Homo sapiens: one gene and its partner. The protein of the gene in region 1 interacts with the protein of each later gene in a pairwise test. Each region holds a gene or a part of one and is shown on either strand. Other genes may lie near its edges.

What was found. The genes of interacting proteins can lie anywhere in the genome.
Region 2: the proteins of TMEM74 (region 1) and MS4A13 interact in binary tests that used the Homo sapiens proteins (3 or more experiments, as listed by UniProt).

What each region holds. Positions count from the first base shown.
Region 1 is NC_000008.11:108,783,867-108,793,989, forward strand, and holds the start of TMEM74 (transmembrane protein 74), read right to left. Parts: upstream 3,729-10,123; 5' UTR 3,610-3,728; intron 1,272-3,609; 5' UTR 1,233-1,271; coding exon 315-1,232; 3' UTR 1-314. UniProt on the Homo sapiens protein: Plays an essential role in autophagy. TMEM74-induced autophagy may involve PI3K signal transduction.
Region 2 is NC_000011.10:60,538,161-60,544,380, reverse strand, and holds the end of MS4A13 (membrane-spanning 4-domains subfamily A member 13), read right to left. Parts: intron 1,863-6,220; coding exon 1,806-1,862; 3' UTR 1,660-1,805; downstream 1-1,659. UniProt on the Homo sapiens protein: May be involved in signal transduction as a component of a multimeric receptor complex.

The sequences.
Region 1 (10,123 bases):
TGTAAAAGAAATAATTTGTAGACTGGGTCATTAGAAATATTTTTCTATCGAAGTAGAAGTTCTTGGCCATTACAGATTAATTAGCCTTCAGCTCTTCAGAAGGATAGGTGTGGCTGGTTGTGGTTTCTTATACATCTTACATGGCTTTTCTTCTAAATAGAAGACACATAGAGAACAAAAACACTTACTGGCTGTTGGTTTGTGAAATAAACTTTTCTTGCCAGGCAAATAAATTGCACTGTGAATTTTTATAAATTAACTTTTTTCATATTATAAAATGCCAAGGCAGACTCTCAAGATATTCACAACCAGAATTAACTCTGTACAGCAAGCGCATCTTCCTCTACCAAGGACAGTTCCAGAGTGTTTTCATTCGTGCTGGTTTTCATCCTGAAGTTGAAAGAACCATAGAGTTTTGCAGACTCTTTGGAAGAGGCAAATCTGTTTCGACGATAGAGCTCCCCCTTCCACATGGACATCATTAACAAGCAGGACAGGATGACGCCCCCCAGCGTGAGGAGGCAGAGCCCCGCAATCACACAGCGGTCCAGGTGAGCCCCCAGCCTCGCACTCTCCTTCTCCAGGCGCTCCATCTCCCGGGCTGCCACAGTGTTGGGGTCCACAGTCACTTCCCGTGGGACGATGTAAGAGATGATCACGAGCAGGATCCCAGTGACCAAGAACAAGATGGCGCTGATGAAACCATAGTCTATAGACTTCCCTGAAGACGTGGCTTCTGAACTTGTATCATCCTCCTCTTCAGATATCAAAGATATGGCAGCCTCTTGGGACCACTCATTTGGATTTTCCCAGCCAAGCTCCCCAGGGTGATTATGCCCTTTTGCTGATGGCGAGCTCCGGTTCCGCTGCTCCAAGTTGATGTTTTTGTCCACATAGGTAAAAGAAGTTTCTAATTCCTGGCTGCAGCAGTTACAGACTTTCCGTTCCGCTGTTATTTGGTTGTTCCCTGAGTGGAGAAGTCCTGGTGGAAAGGCATCTGGCTGAAGAGTACTGTTTTGCAGAGAGGAGGAGGGGGATGCTGGAGAAGAACTAAGTTTAGACCCTTCCATCTCGGTTGCTCTTGGGGTGGATGCACACTGTTTCTGACAGCAGAGAGCAGCTCTTGTGGCTGCTGTATCTGCCTGGTCACCAGGCAGCCCTCTTGAACTCCAGTCCCTGGCATCACAGAGGTCTGCCTGGTTGCTCTTCTTAGCAAGGTAGTGGAGCTCCATGAGAGCTAGTCAGACATCCCCCAGCAGCTTCCGGAAAGTCTGCCAATAGCAACAGAGTTAGATAAGAACCCAACAGAAGCTAAGGTTGTACTTCCAGGAGTGTTGCTCCTGGGGTCCCCATTTCCTTCACAGCTGCACCTGTTTAGCCCCTTTTCCACCTCAAACAGGCAAAAGAAGGGAGGGGATACCTAGTGGCAGGAAAGTGTGGAAGGGACAAATGCTCTCACTTGTCATAGTGATTAACACTGAGAAACTTAAGTCAGGGTAGAAAGGTGCGTGGAGGAAGTGGCAGTGTCTACTGAGAAAGAATACTGCCGTCACCAAGCCAAATTTATTCAAGGACTCGCGCATTCCTGCAAAAGGATCCCTCAAACGAGAAGGCAAGTTTCCTGTAAAAAGACAAATGAGAAAGGCAAGAGCCCTTTTTAGCAGAGCTGCCGATTTTCTGGAGGACTTGGGGAAGCATAGACTTGTTAATTCAGTAAGATTGTAAGTGTTTACACTCTCCCTAGTTCAGAGCAAATTCTAATACAGATTAGCTTTGGAGCATCACCATCAGTGAATGACTATACACCCCTATCAGCTGGGCAGGAACTCAGCATTTTGATTCCATAGCTCTGAAGTAGATGAAAAAGGCCAGCTTAATCAGCCACCTCTGCTAAGCTTACACCTCATACATCCAATGACCCTAGTGACACAGCCCTGTATTTACAAGACCATATGCTGCTTATTCACTGTGCTTCCACTTAGCCCTATTCCCTCACTGCTCCATGGGGGAAGCATGTTCTGGACCCCAAAGCATACAGGCAACAGACCTTACGGCAATCCCTGCAAAATACAATGGGCCAACCCACTCCTCCACACACACACCTGCCTGCTCCAGCTGCAGGATCTGCTACTCCCGTTCCCTGGGTCTGTGTTCCTCCCTCTCTGCATGCTTTGCTATCACACAATGCACAAGAAATTGACCATCTGGATAGTTTTACAAACCCAATCTAGAAGTGAACTGATAATAAAAGACAAACTATAAACCCACAGAGTAAGAGTTCTGTGGAGACAAATAGGTGAGAAGCTATTTCCAAGGTTACCTCTGTAATTTTATAAACATGTCACTCCTCACCCCCGACTGCAGCAAGGGGCATTTCTGGGAGAGAACTTTGGTTTGAGCAGAAAACCATCGGCTTTTCTCTGCCTCTGCCATGTTTCTAAGGAATAAAAATTCACTTTCCACTATCATTAGAGATTTTAACCAAAGGCTCCTTTTATTTTGCTTCCAAATCCAGGGTGATAATTGATTTAACCCAACGGCTTGAGGCTTCTTATAATTCAAAATCCACAGCTCCAAAGCTGGTAACAGAAACACAGGCAAGGGTCACCTAAGGTCAACCTGGCAACTCAAAATATGGGAGAGGGAATTGACATGTTTTCTGCTACACCTAAGAGTTTGTTTAAAACAAAACAAAAAAAGCAAAACAGAAAACGTTTTTCTCCTGTTATCGGAGTTTCTCTACAGTGAAAACAGCAAAAAACAACAGGGCAAAAGAATCACTACTAAACTAGAACAAACCCCCACTAAAGGATCCCTCAATGAATGAAGTGATGGTAACAGGCTTCATCAATTACCGATAACTCTTCTTCCAGTTTTCTCAGGCATTAGGGGCTCTGATTAACCTTTGGTACCATTAACTCATCACACTAGCCTACCTTGGATAAAATCAGCAGGGTTCTTTGAGACTTTCAGTTTATAACAAAAGAAGAGAGAAATCCCCACTTAATTCCCTACGGCCGCCTCTACCTCTCTTTAAAGAAAAGCTACTCCCGCTTGTTCGCTTGTTCTACCGGAGGTATGCTAGCAGCACAGTCGATTTCCTTTGCAGCTCCCTAATCCGGGGTTTCCATTCTCAGTGGAGAATGGATAATCCCAGGGGACCAGCTAAAGACTCTTTTCTTCCGTCCTCTCCCTCTTTTTCCTCTGATCTGCTTAAAAGCCCAGTTAACGACATTGCACCTTAAAGCGAGGGGACACGCACTTTCCCTCGTCCATCTGTCATCAATTAAAAGCATTAATATTTGCTTTAAACTGACACAGGCAAGGCTGATCTCGGGGAGGCGACCTCTGGATGCGCCCTGTGCGAGCAAAGCCGGGAGAGCGAGCCCCAAGCACCTGGCAGCGGTGCCCCCAGCAGGCGCCGAGGAATCCGGCTATCCATTTCTGGTGAACTCTGCGCCCACTGAGGCATTCGAGGTACGGATGTGTCCGCCTAGTACTCGGAGACGAAGGAGAGAGAGCGGGGATATGCGCTCCAGCTCTGCTAGGCTCCAGGGCTCTCACCCTTGCATTCAAAGCCTCCACCCCATCCCACTCCCCGCCACTCACCTTCTGCTTCGGCCACCCGGTGCGGCTCCAGCACCGCGCGCTCTCCCGGCACGGTTCCCGGAGAAAGTCCCCCAATCACCAGCTACGGCACTTGTAGCCTCTGCACGCCGCTCGGCTCCGCCGGGTGGGCAGCGCCCGCCACGGCGGGCGGGGTGGGGCGGGGCGGGGCGCTCCCGGAGCATCCCGGGAGTTGTAGGCCAGGGGCGGTCCCTGCATCCCTCCTGTCTCTGTCTCCTCCCACGCCTTCTGGGTTTTACCCTTCCTGCAGATGAGTTCCCGCCATACCCTCTTACTCCTCCCCAGCACTTAAGAAGACAGCACTGTTTTCTAAGCCTAGAGTGGAGTTCCCTAGCCTCAGGTGTGGCCACAAGACTGTGAAAAGGAAAGTATATTCGACTTCAAATGTGCCAGATAATTTGCATATTTTGTCTTTTTAATAGTCAAAACAAATCTTCCAAGTAGATTTTATTAATCCTCATTTTACAGATGTGGAAACAGGCTCAGAGAGGGTAAGTGCCTCATCCACAGTTACCAACAGCAGCTTCTGAAATTGCATCCAGGAGTCAGATTCGAAAGTCATTGCGTGTCTCACAAAATCAGAAGAAATATGACCATAAGGGGTAAGAGATTGTCCGATGTACCAACACATCCCCTGTATTTAGCACAGTGGTATTCGTTGAATGTATGAATAATAATGACTCAAAATAACAGTTAACATAAATAGCGCTTATTATTGCCAGGCTCTCTTCTAAGCACTATAGATACATTATCTCATTTAATGGTCACAATTTATTGTTAAAGTACTGTAAAAAAAAATCCTCATTTTAACAGAAGGCAAAACTGAGTTACAAAGTAGAATAATTTGCCCAATGTCACACAACTAATACTTAGCAGAGGTGGGGGGGGGGGGATGAACACCAACAGATTCTAAGCGTTATGCTATATGGAATGAATGGAAGAAAGACCAGAAGGCCAGAATAAAAGGGCTCAGGAATAAAGGAAATCTGAAGGTTGAATCTTCTGAGTTGTGACTCTTAGGATAGGACAAGGTAACTGTGTCACCAGCCTCTTTCAACCAGAGTGGACTGCAATAGCCAACAGCCACTGAAAGCCCAGGGTATGTGTAGCTTGCAGATAATCTCCAGTTTTCCAGCATCCTGTTGGGACAATTCTAGGGGAGCAAAAAAGGATTATAGTATGGATGGGCTGGGCACGATGGCTCACGCCAGTAATGCCAGCAATTTGGGAGGCCGAGGCGGGCAGATCACGAGGTCAGAAAATCGAGACCATCCTGGCCAACATGGTGAAACCCCGTCTCTACTAAAATAGAAAAAATTAGCCGGGCGTGGTGGCGCGTGCCTGTACTCCCAGCTACTCAGGAGGCTGAGGCAGGGGAATCGCTTGAAGCCGGAGGCGGAGGTTGCAGTGAGCAGAGATCGTGCCACTGCACCACTCCAGCCTGGCGACAAAGCAAGACTCCGTCTCAAAAAAAAAAAAAAGAAAAAAAGAAAAAAGGGATTAGGGATTATAGTATGTATTATGACATTGTGCTTGTAGCTCACATAAATACTGTGGTTGCTTGCTTTCAAAAGAGAGATCTATCTCCTTTAATGACAATTATGTTGGTATTTCATTACATTGGATAGAATCTATAGTCACATGATTACAGGAGTTCACAATGCTCCCTCTTTAAAATTCTTTTTCCCCCATATGATTATATTTGTAGCCAGTGAGGCCCATTTGTTGATAAACATGACAGATGTATTATGACTTCTCCTTTGCTTACTACACGGTTCTCCAGCATGAATATCTTTCCTCCACTGCCCTATTCCATCCACACTTCAAGGACTAGTTTGTCAAGCCAAATCTACAGGGATGCATCCAGTTCTTAGTACTACATATGCAAAAAGAAATAAAGAGAGAAACTAAGATGTAGAAGGAACTTGAATTTATGTTGACGAGGAAAAACTTAGGAACTTAGGCTATTTAGCCATAGGAGAATACTGAGAGGAAACAATAAACTAGCTTCAAATATTCTGAAGTTTCTAAAAATAGAAGAAGAATTCTATAGTATATTTAAAAGGGTAAAAGCAGAACAAATAACAATAATACTTTTTTGTTAGTGCTATTATGTTATCATCTTTAATTTTTACACCAACTTCACAAGGGAGGCAGTATTATTGCACCCATTTTGCAATGTAGAAATTGAGGCTTGAAAAGATGTAGTTTCTTTTCCAAGGCCTGAAAACTAATATCGGGCAGAGCTAAGGTTCTAACTTGGGTCTGTGTGATTCCAGAGACTTGATCTCTTTGCCAACACATTATACTGAGCAATGCTTCACAATCTTTTTTACAGCAGAGTACACATAAGAGGTGATACTATTTATGGCAATGTGATAAACACAGGAGGTTTCTCATGGCCATAGTTCTGGGGCTGTGGGTACTTCAGTCTCTGCAGGACAGCTTGGAGGGCTAAGGAAATAAATAAGTCAGCACACCTGTGACACACTGGAGTGCTGGAGGATGCCAAAGCACTGATCTGAGAAGCTCTGGATAGCACTATTAAATTTAAGAAGGAGGCTGATTTGAGACTTTGTATAAGGAAGGACATTATTTCTAAAACTTTTAAATTGATGTCTCATGAAAGCAAATTCTCTGGTACTGGTGAGGATTAAAAAAAAAAAGGAGAGCCATTTATTAGTGATTTCATAGAAGGGATTCATCTAGTTGGATTAGAGGACCTCTGTGATTCCCAGGCTGAACTGATTTTAAGTTACTTTTTTTTTTTCCCTGAAGCCTTTTTCTTCCAAGGATTACACCTCCTGTGAACTTTGCTGGGACTTGTCAGTACTGGTGTTTTTGATATTTATCATCCACTGCTTTACGACATTTCTGGAATGGCTAGGTAGCCACTGCATGTGGTTTAACTTCTCACTTAGGTGCCTAAATCTCTAAGGTAATCAATCATAAACTCCTTAAGGTCAGCATCTACATGCTGAACACCTTACCTCCTGCAGAAAGTGCAGTATTTCTGTTGAGAGGGAAGATGTCAAGACTGAACTGAAGACTCGAGATGATTACCTATAATAATACTTGACTGTCTACATATTCTTGAGCATTAAAAATATATCAATTCCAACCAACACCACAAAATCCCCTTTAAAAGTCTGCTGACAAAAAATAGAGATGAACCAATTGAGCACTTGAAAATAAAAGCTCTGCAAAAATTGCCACTTGCTGGAATACTTTCCCCCTCTCTCATAAGTCTATGTCTAAAACTTTCCTGAAAATTGACCCAAGAACCTTTTTCAAAAGCCTTTCTTGTTCAACGTCCTCAACTTATCGTTACCTTTCTAACTGGCTTTCTAGTAGCATAATATGCTTTCTTTTATGCTGTTATTTTAGATATAGAAAAGTATTTCATGTATATTTTATAGTGCTTTCTATGTGATCTCTCCAGATAAAATTTAAGCTCCTTGAGAACCAACATATTCTTTCTATTTCTTTGAAGCTATATGTGGGCATGAAATAGTGCGACACATAGGCAACAGTAGTTCCTCAATATATGCTGATAAAACAATTCACAGTTGTAAAATGTTATCTAGAAATCTACATAATGATTTTGGTCTTACTCTAATTTTAATGTCTCACATTTTCCTGTTTACTTATACTCCGTTTCATGTGAGAGGAGCAATCGTTACTACACTAAGTTAACTAGTTGAAAAATAAGAAAAATTCTGAGAAGTAAATTTACCATGTAAATCAAGGGTAGTGCTGGGACTTTTAACAACCAGCCTCTTGTAATAATTACTGAGGATGTGTTCCAGTTTCTTTTTCTTCAGTAATAATAATAAGGGCTGATTAGTGGACTATTAAGGGATTATTAGTGGAGTTATTATTATGAGAGGCTGGGTCCTAGAGAAGTAAGAAAGACATTTTTGGAATAGGCTGGAGGGAGGATCAGTCATTGAATAGGGATAGCATGAGGAATATGGTCCTATACCCCATACTGGTGCTAAGAATGAAGGTGACCATAATTTAGAGAATGAAGATCTTGTTAATGAACAAGATTCTAGGAACAAAAAAAAGCATTAAATTAGAAAGGTTTCCATTTAATAAGAATGCTTACAGTGGCCAAGTAGGCATGTTACTTAAATAAAGTGGCTGAATACAGACAATAGGGATGGGGAAGATTACCGAAGTTAAGAGCAAGTGCCTTTCCCAAAAGGGGCAGTATCCCCTAACTGTTCTACCTGAGTTTTGTCTTAAGTGAATTTAGACATTAATGAAAGTCAGATATCACAATTTGTTATTCAAAATTCAATGTATTTTAAACCCTTAATGAGTCAGAGAAAAAAAAAATTATTGGGAACATTTGTTTCCCGTAGTAATAGACTAGGTAATTTAGACCTACTCACTGCATTTGGCTTTGAAGAAATGTATTTATATTTGAAACATTTAGAGAACCCAAAATTATTGCATCCAAGGAGCAAAGATTTTTTTTTTCTATCTTTTGGGGAGGGGTGGAAAAGATAGTTTTCTCTTGCTTCTGTATGTAAACACACTAAATTATTTTTTTCTCTTGTTTCTCATCTGTGATACAGACTTCAAAGTTTGTACGCCTAGGACATCTGACCTGGCTTTCACTGTGTTGTGCCAAGGGTAAGAATTGGGATCCAGAGGACCGCATGGTCATTATTTGCTCTTAAGTAAATCATCTGTTTCTGATCCAACACCATGTGTACCTTCAGGATAAAATTAATAAATATGAATATTAAAAACACAACAATAAAACTCAAGAAAAGAAGCTAGCCACTAAAAAATACACAATGTGCAGTTCTATTACATAATTTCATTGATATTTAGTTAGTTAAGAGGCAAACTATACCAAAGTATTTGGAGATGTTAGCAAAACAATAAAGAAAAGCAAGAATGCAGTTACCATAAATGTCAAGAGGTAGGTTGCCTTTGTAAGGGAAGAAAAGAGTAGTGATTCTGAGAAGACTAAAGGGGAGGCTTCTGAGACCTGGCACTATTTCTTGACCCGGATGTGTTTACAAGGGTGTTCTCTTTGAGCTAAATTATCGGAGGTAACCCTCTTTATTTCATGTACTTTTCTATATGCAGTTGTTCATGATAAAAAGCTGTTGGATTGGATTCAGCTGTTGGAGTGGATTCAGGTTCCAAACACCTAATTTGCAATCTCTGCATTAAGGGTTTATATCAAAATCTAAGCGTTCTGTTTTACCTTAAGAAGAACCTGAAGATAGTTTTCTCTGACTTACCTTCACCTGGCATCTTGCTATGCATGGCAGGGTGAGGAGTGTACAAAGGTATGCTATTCAGATTCTCCCGAAACGCTTACAACATTAGGATTTAAAGTAATCTGGGCACTGATATCTCAAAATAAGAAATATGGAAACATTTCATGTCTAATATTTTGTATATAAACTTTATGACACCTTTAGAAAGCACAATATGGGGAGAATATTGGACATTGGTAGAAGGATTTGGGTCTGTTGGTTGCATAAAGGCCCTGTTGTCTTTAGGCCACAGATTTCCTTTATAATTAAACTTACTAGAAACAAGACTGCATTCACTGGCCCTAATCTTGTACCTTCATTTTCTTTTTAATCTACTATTGCTGTTAGGGTCCATGTTAATTTAATTAAGTAAAAAACACAAGTTGACAGCTATGGGTTGAATCTGATCTAAATACATGGTTTTATTGGTGCATTGAGTTGTTACAATTTATTTAGGTATTTATCAAATTTGGAAATTTGGAAGATTTGAGAAAGCTATTTGGATTTCTGGTTTCTCTTGAATTATATGAAAAATCCTGAAACGTGGACCTCACTTTTGTATGTTAACAATTAACTAGAGCTTAGTAGGTTTTGCACTCTGTAGATGGGACATAAAGTATCCAGATTTTCATAGTTCTCACCCTTAACTTATATCTGGCTCAGTTCTCCTACTACTTAGCTTTTGCAGATATGTGGGTTTGCTACCAGTTCCTTAACAGTAAGTCTCCAGAGAGAGGTATTTCACATGAGGCAAAATCAATAACAGGTAGCCTTCTGTGCACTCTTCTGCTATCTCCTTTCCCAACTCTTGCCCAATGCTTTTCTTCCACATTCACTCTTGATTGATGTGTTTTTATTAAATTTAGCCCTTTTTGGCTTGGCATTTTTGATATCTGCTCTATATTTCCTGAGTACCCTTCCATTTGCTCATTTAAATGACTGCTTGCTGCTCACCTCTTCACATGACCTTTTAGGGAACAGAACCATTCCTGATACCATTCTACCATGATCTCAAGAAATGTTTCAATGTCTTAAACTCTTTCCTTGTCTTTTTATTACATCCATTTCTAGAGACAAAACCCAGTTTATGAGATCATCACTGCACTGAATGCCTGTGTTAAGGTCATTAACAATTTTAAGTAATTCAGCCATTCACTCAATAGCCATTAATTATCAACTAGTTCTATGCTGGGTGCTGGAGGTGCAACAAT
Region 2 (6,220 bases), on another chromosome or scaffold:
CGAGGCTCCTGCAGAGAGACTTTTGACTTGGAATGGGTACAGAATTGTTGTTGTTCTGGGAGATATGATTAGGTTATTTTCTAGTCTGCCATCGTGGTGACGTCACCCCTCAATATTTTTAATTACCATCAAAATCAATCAGTTTATAGCTGATCTTTCCTCTGTCTCCAGATTTGTATTTTCAACTGTTTAATTGACGTCTCTACTTTGATGTTCTCTAGTTATCTCAAACTCAACTTATCCTAATAGAATTGATCATTTTTTCCAATTCTGTTATGTCTTATATGCTTTATATCACTGTAGGTTTTATCTAATCCAGAAACTAGGGGATTATTTTAGATTCCTTCACACTTCATGTTTAATCAGCCAGTCAGGCTAAAACTTACCACTTTTCACTGCTTCTCTGAATCACTACAATAATTATCCATTTTTCCCTCCCACAATCTAGTTGCTTTAATCAAATTTATACTTTCTAATGCATTTTCCCATATTTCATACTTTTTTCAATGTAAATCCAAGCCTATAATTTTCCTGTTGAACTACTTGCCAATGGCCTCTTACTGTCTGCAAGATTTAGTTCAATACTTTAGTATTAACTCTTTGATGATTTGACTTCTTTATTATCTGGCCTCCCCCGATCTCTCCAGCTTTCATTCTTGACTTCCTCCTCCCTGTCATTAAATTTTAATATATTTATTTTAGCTGTGATCTCTCCCACATTTCTAATAACCTAAAGTCTTCTATTCAAAATGTCTTCCTACCTTTCTGTTTGGTAAACTACTAATCCCCTGCTCAGGGGTCTTTCATAAAGCTTTATTACTCTTATTTCACATCTGAAGGATTATTTCTTCTGTCTTATTTCTACTTTTTTATACTCTGTTTATATGTCATACATAGTCTTAACTTGGTAGCTGTTTGTTTCCTCCCCTAAAATAAGTCTCCTTGTCATCAGGTACCTTATTAATTGTTGATACTCCAGAGCTTAAGATATTATTCATTGGCATACAGTAGACAATCTGAAAAAAAATGAGATAAGTGCTGAAATTCTTAGAATCAAGTAACCTTAGTTTGCAGTGTTAGATAACAATTAGTGAAACATCTTTCTGAAGTAATATTCCATATTAGAAGAGAGGGTGAATTGAATTCAGAACCGATTTCTAGAAAATTCTCCTTATTGTGGACAGTCTGTCTGCTTTGAAAAGCAGTTGAACAGGTGATCCAAACAATGATAAGAAGAAAGAAGCAAGGGGAAAGAAAGATAAGAAAGATAGCAGATATGTTCAGGGCAGAAAGGAACTTTAAATAAGGAGAAGAGAAGTCAAAGAACAATGAAGGAAATATGAATTAGAGGCCTTTTGATTCATACTTTGATAGAAGCTAGTTAAAGTAGAAGAACTCAGACTGTAAAATGTGCTTTCTGCTTGTATGGACATAAGTATTTAAAGTTTTCCTGTGAATTATACGACATCATGGCCCAAGTCTTTATAGCCTTCACTCTAGAGATAATAATGAATCTTTTTTACAGTCTCTTACAAAAGCTTTATTATGGAGAGTTGACAGCTATTCAGCGTACCTAGATAACACATTCATCCTGTAATAATCTCATATTTAAATAGGGAAAAACTTTCCTTGCAGCCTAGAAAAATATAAGCAGAGACATTTTTGAATGAGGAGAAAAATTCACCTTGTTTGTATTTTATTTTGCACAAAATCTGTAGGCTTCGTAACTGCTTTGTTATACAGAGATATCATTAGGACCCACACCAGGCATCAGCAACAGCAAAATTCTCATATTTCTAGGGTTTTTAAGGAGTGCTCTCAGCTTCCTCAGTAACAGATGTAAGATCATTTTGTCTTCGAAACTGGAAAAAAAGTAACCTCTTACAAATCATATCATGTTTCTTAATATTATACAACTAATAAATAGATCTTTTTCTTAAAAAATACAGGTAATACTGATATTTATAGAGTGAAATCTTAAAGTATCCTATTTCTGTCCCATTCCTATTTCAACCTTATTTCTTTCTTCCTTTCTTTCTCTTTCTCTTTCTTTCTTTCTTCCCTTCCTCCCTTCCTCCCTTTCTTCTTTCTTTCTCTTTCTTTCTTTCCTTTTTCTTTCTTTCTTTCTCTTTTTCTTTCTCCTTCCTTCCTTCCTTTCTTTCTTTCCTTCCTCCCTTCCTCCCTTTCTTCCCTTTCTTCTTTCTTTCTCTCTCTCTCTTTTTCCTTCCTACATTCCTTCCTTCCTTGGGTTTTTTTTTTTTTTCAAGGTCTTGTTCTGTTTTCAAGGTCATGTCGCCCAGGCTGGAGTGCAGTGGTGCGATCTCGGCTCACTGCAACCACCTCTCTTTCAGGTTCAGACTCAAGAGATTCTCATGCCCCAGCCACCCGAGTAGTTAGGATTACAGGCCTGTGCCACCATGCCTGGCTAATTTTTTTGTATTTTTAGTAGAGACGGGGTTTCACCATGTTGACCAAGCTGATCTTGAACTCCTGGCCTCAAGTGATCCTCCTGCTTCAGACTCCCAAAGTGTTATGATTACAGGTGTGAGCCACCATGCCCAGCCTTCAACCTACTTTCTTAATTTCTGTTGGATCACTTGTATCTTTTGGTGTACCTTCAAACTTTTATAATAAAAATAACCATAGTCTTCTTGAACATAAATCTTAATAGATGCCAGCACCCTAGCCTCTCATGACATTTCTCAACCATTACCTATTCCTTCCCTTCAAGGTAATGGTCATTTTGACTTTTAGATAAGGTCAATTTTTTTTCTAGTTTCATGAACTAAGCTTCATCCCTAAACACTATAGGTTAGCTTTAGTTTTACCTGGTTTCAAACTTCATATGAATGGATTTTTTTACAAGTATGCATTCTTTTGAGTTTTTATACTCAACATTTTATTTGTAAGATCCATCCATGATGTTAAGTGCAGGTATAGTTGCTTTTAATCACCATGTCAAATTTGAATGAAGTAATACACCTCAACTTATTCATCACTCACCCACCTGTGTTGTTTCCACTTTGGGACTACTATGAATAATACTGCTCTCTATATATTCCTGGAAGTTTATCTTAATGCATAAGCGCAAACATTTCTGTTGGTTATATACCAAAGACTTAAATTACTGATCATAGGGTATGCACATTTTAATTTTTAGTAGGTAATGCCCAAAAGGTTTTAAAAATTGTTGCAATAACTTATATTTCAACTAGGAGTTTGAGAGATATTTCTTTTATCTACAATCTTTGCTATCAGTTGGCATTGTCAATAGTTTGAAATTCAGTCATTCCAGTAGGTACTTTAAAATATCTCTGTCATTTTAATGTTATTATTACAATGAATAGATTTATATCTGACATTTTATTATTTGTTTTATACACGTCTCATGTGTTTTCTTTTCCTTTCCTTTTTTTTTTTTTTTGTGAGATAGGGTTTTACTCTGTCACCCACACTGGGGTACGGTGGCCTGAATATGGCTCATTGCAGCCTTGACCTCCTGGGTTCCAAGTGATCCTCCCACCTCAGCTGCCTAAGTAGCTGGGACCACAGGCATGTGGCACTATGCATAGCTAGTGTTTTTATTTTTACTTTTTTGTAGAGATGAGGTCTCGTCATGTTGCCCAGGCTGGTCTTGAACTCCTGGGCTCATATGGTCTTCCCGAGTTGGCCTCCCAAAATGCTGGGAATATGGGTGTTAACCAACCAAGCCTGGCCATTGTGTTCTTTCTTTATTTTTTAAAAATTAAACATACTTTGTGTATGTTAATTCCCTTGTTTTTAAGCTATTATATTTTTAGCTTGCTTAATCACTAAATAAGCACCCTAATTTATCACAGTCTACTTCAGATGAATGCTAATTCAATTCCAGTAAAATACAGCAACTTTATTCCCATATAACTCATTCCCTTTCCTTTTCTTTGTGCTATTATTGTCATCTATTCTATCTATATATATTATGTAACTACCAATATGGTGTTATAATTACTGCTTTTATAATCTTATCTTTTAAAATTTAAGAGAAAAATTGAGAAACTGTCTATTGAAGAAGGGTTGGCAAGCTATGATACATGGACCAAATCTAGCCCACTCCCGTTTTTGCAAATAAAGTTTTGCTGGAACAAGCCATATCCATTCCTTTATGTATTGTCTATGAATACTTTCATGCTAAAAGGTGGAGCTGAGTAGTTATGACAGATGGAATTAATGTTACTAATAACACGACCTTAAATTAAGGTAATCATCCTGGATTACCTGGGTGAGCCCAATGCAATTAATGCTACTGTCTTTTAAATCAGTTAACAGAAGAAAACACAAAAGATGTATTTATACTGATTTTCATAACCACCTACATAATTACTTTTACTGGCACTTTTTTTATTTATTCATGTGCATTTGAGTTTCATCTGATGTCACTTCAGTCTAAAGAACTTCCTTTAGTGTTTCTCATGAGGAATTTCTGCTAGCAACACATTATTCATCTGTGTATGTCTGTATTTCACCTTCATTTTTGAGGGATAGTTTTAAAGGATAAAGAATTCCTGCCTGACTGTTTTTCCCCCTGCACTTTAATATCCCATTCCACTACCTTCAGGCCTCCATTGTTTTGGATGAGAACCCAGCTGTTTATATTATTGTGGTTCCCTTATATATGAAGAGTCTTGTTTTTATTTTTTTTTGCTGCTTTCAAGATTTTCTTTTTTATCAGTTTGACATGGAGGTGTCTAGGAGGATCTCTTTGTGTTTATTTTACTTGAAGATCCTTGAGCTTTTTGGATGTATTGAATGTTTTCCATGAAATTAGGGGAATTTGGGAGCCATTATTTCTTTAATTTTTTTTCTGGTACTCCCCATTTTTATGGGACTCCCATTATACATGTGATGGTATCTCAAAGGATTTTGAGGTTCTGTACAGTTTTCTTCATTTTCTTTTTTTCCTGTTCTTCGGACTGGGCAATATCTTTTTTGCTCTCTTTATGTCTGTTTATTTTGTTTTTTGTCAGCTCACCTCTGTTCTTGAGTTCCTCTAGTGGTTTTTCATTTCAGTTCTTGTATTTTTAAACTCTAGAACCTCCATTGGGTTTTTCATAATTTCTGTCTCTTTTATTGACTTTTATTTGATGAATCATTGTTGCCATCTTATAATTCTTCAAACATATTTACTTTACTAAATTTTTTTTTTTTTTTTTTTGAAACAACACTCATTTATTAACTCATAGTTCTGCAAGTCAGTATTCTGGGTAGCCTCAGCTGGTTTTCTGCTTAGGGTCTCCCAAGACTGAAATCAAGTTGTTGGCTGTCCTGGGCTATTATCTGGAGGGCCAGGAGAAGAATCCCCTTCTAAGATCATTCAGGTTGTTTGCAGAACTCAGTTCCTTGCAGTTGTAGAACTGATGGCTCCATTTCTTTGCTGGTTTTTGACAGGCAGCTGCTCTCAGCTCCTAGAGGCTTCTTTCTGGTCCTTGCATGTGGCCCCCTCCACCTTCAAGGCCAGCAATGGAGATGCATTCAACCCTTATCATGATTCAAATCTCTCTGACTTCCCTTTCTGCCATCAGCCAGATAAAACTTTCTCCTTTTAAAGAGCTTAGGGGCTTAGATTAGGCCTACCCAGATAATTTCCTTTTTGCTGTGTCATGTAACATAGTGATAGGAGTAACCCCAGGAAGTGAAAGTCATAGGGATTATCTTAAAATTCTGCCTCTCATAGGATAGATGGGACACCAGGCTGGCAACTTACCTTCAAATAATTCAGGGAAAAAAATTTCTGTACTGTCCCTGCAATTTTTTTTTTTATTTTTATTTCTTAAAATTTTATTTTTAATTGACATAATCATTGCAGATATATTTATGGGGTACAATGTGATGTTTTGATATGTTTACAGGGTGGAATGATTAAATCAGGCTAATTAACAAATTCATAACCTCATATACTTACTACTTTTCTTTGTGATGAAAACATTTAAAATCAACTCTTTTGGTAGTTTTGGAATATCCAGTGCATGATTAGTTATTATAGTCCCCAGTCTACGTAATTGATCCCTAAAGCTTACTCCTCCTGTCTAACGAAAACTGTATGGCCTTTGATCAACACCTTTTTGCCTCATCTATGCCCCATCGGCCCCCAGCCTCTGGTATTCATCATTCTACCTTCTGCTTCTATGAGTTCAACTTTGTTTTTTTTTTTCGTTTTTTTTTTTTTTATTATACTTTAAGTTTT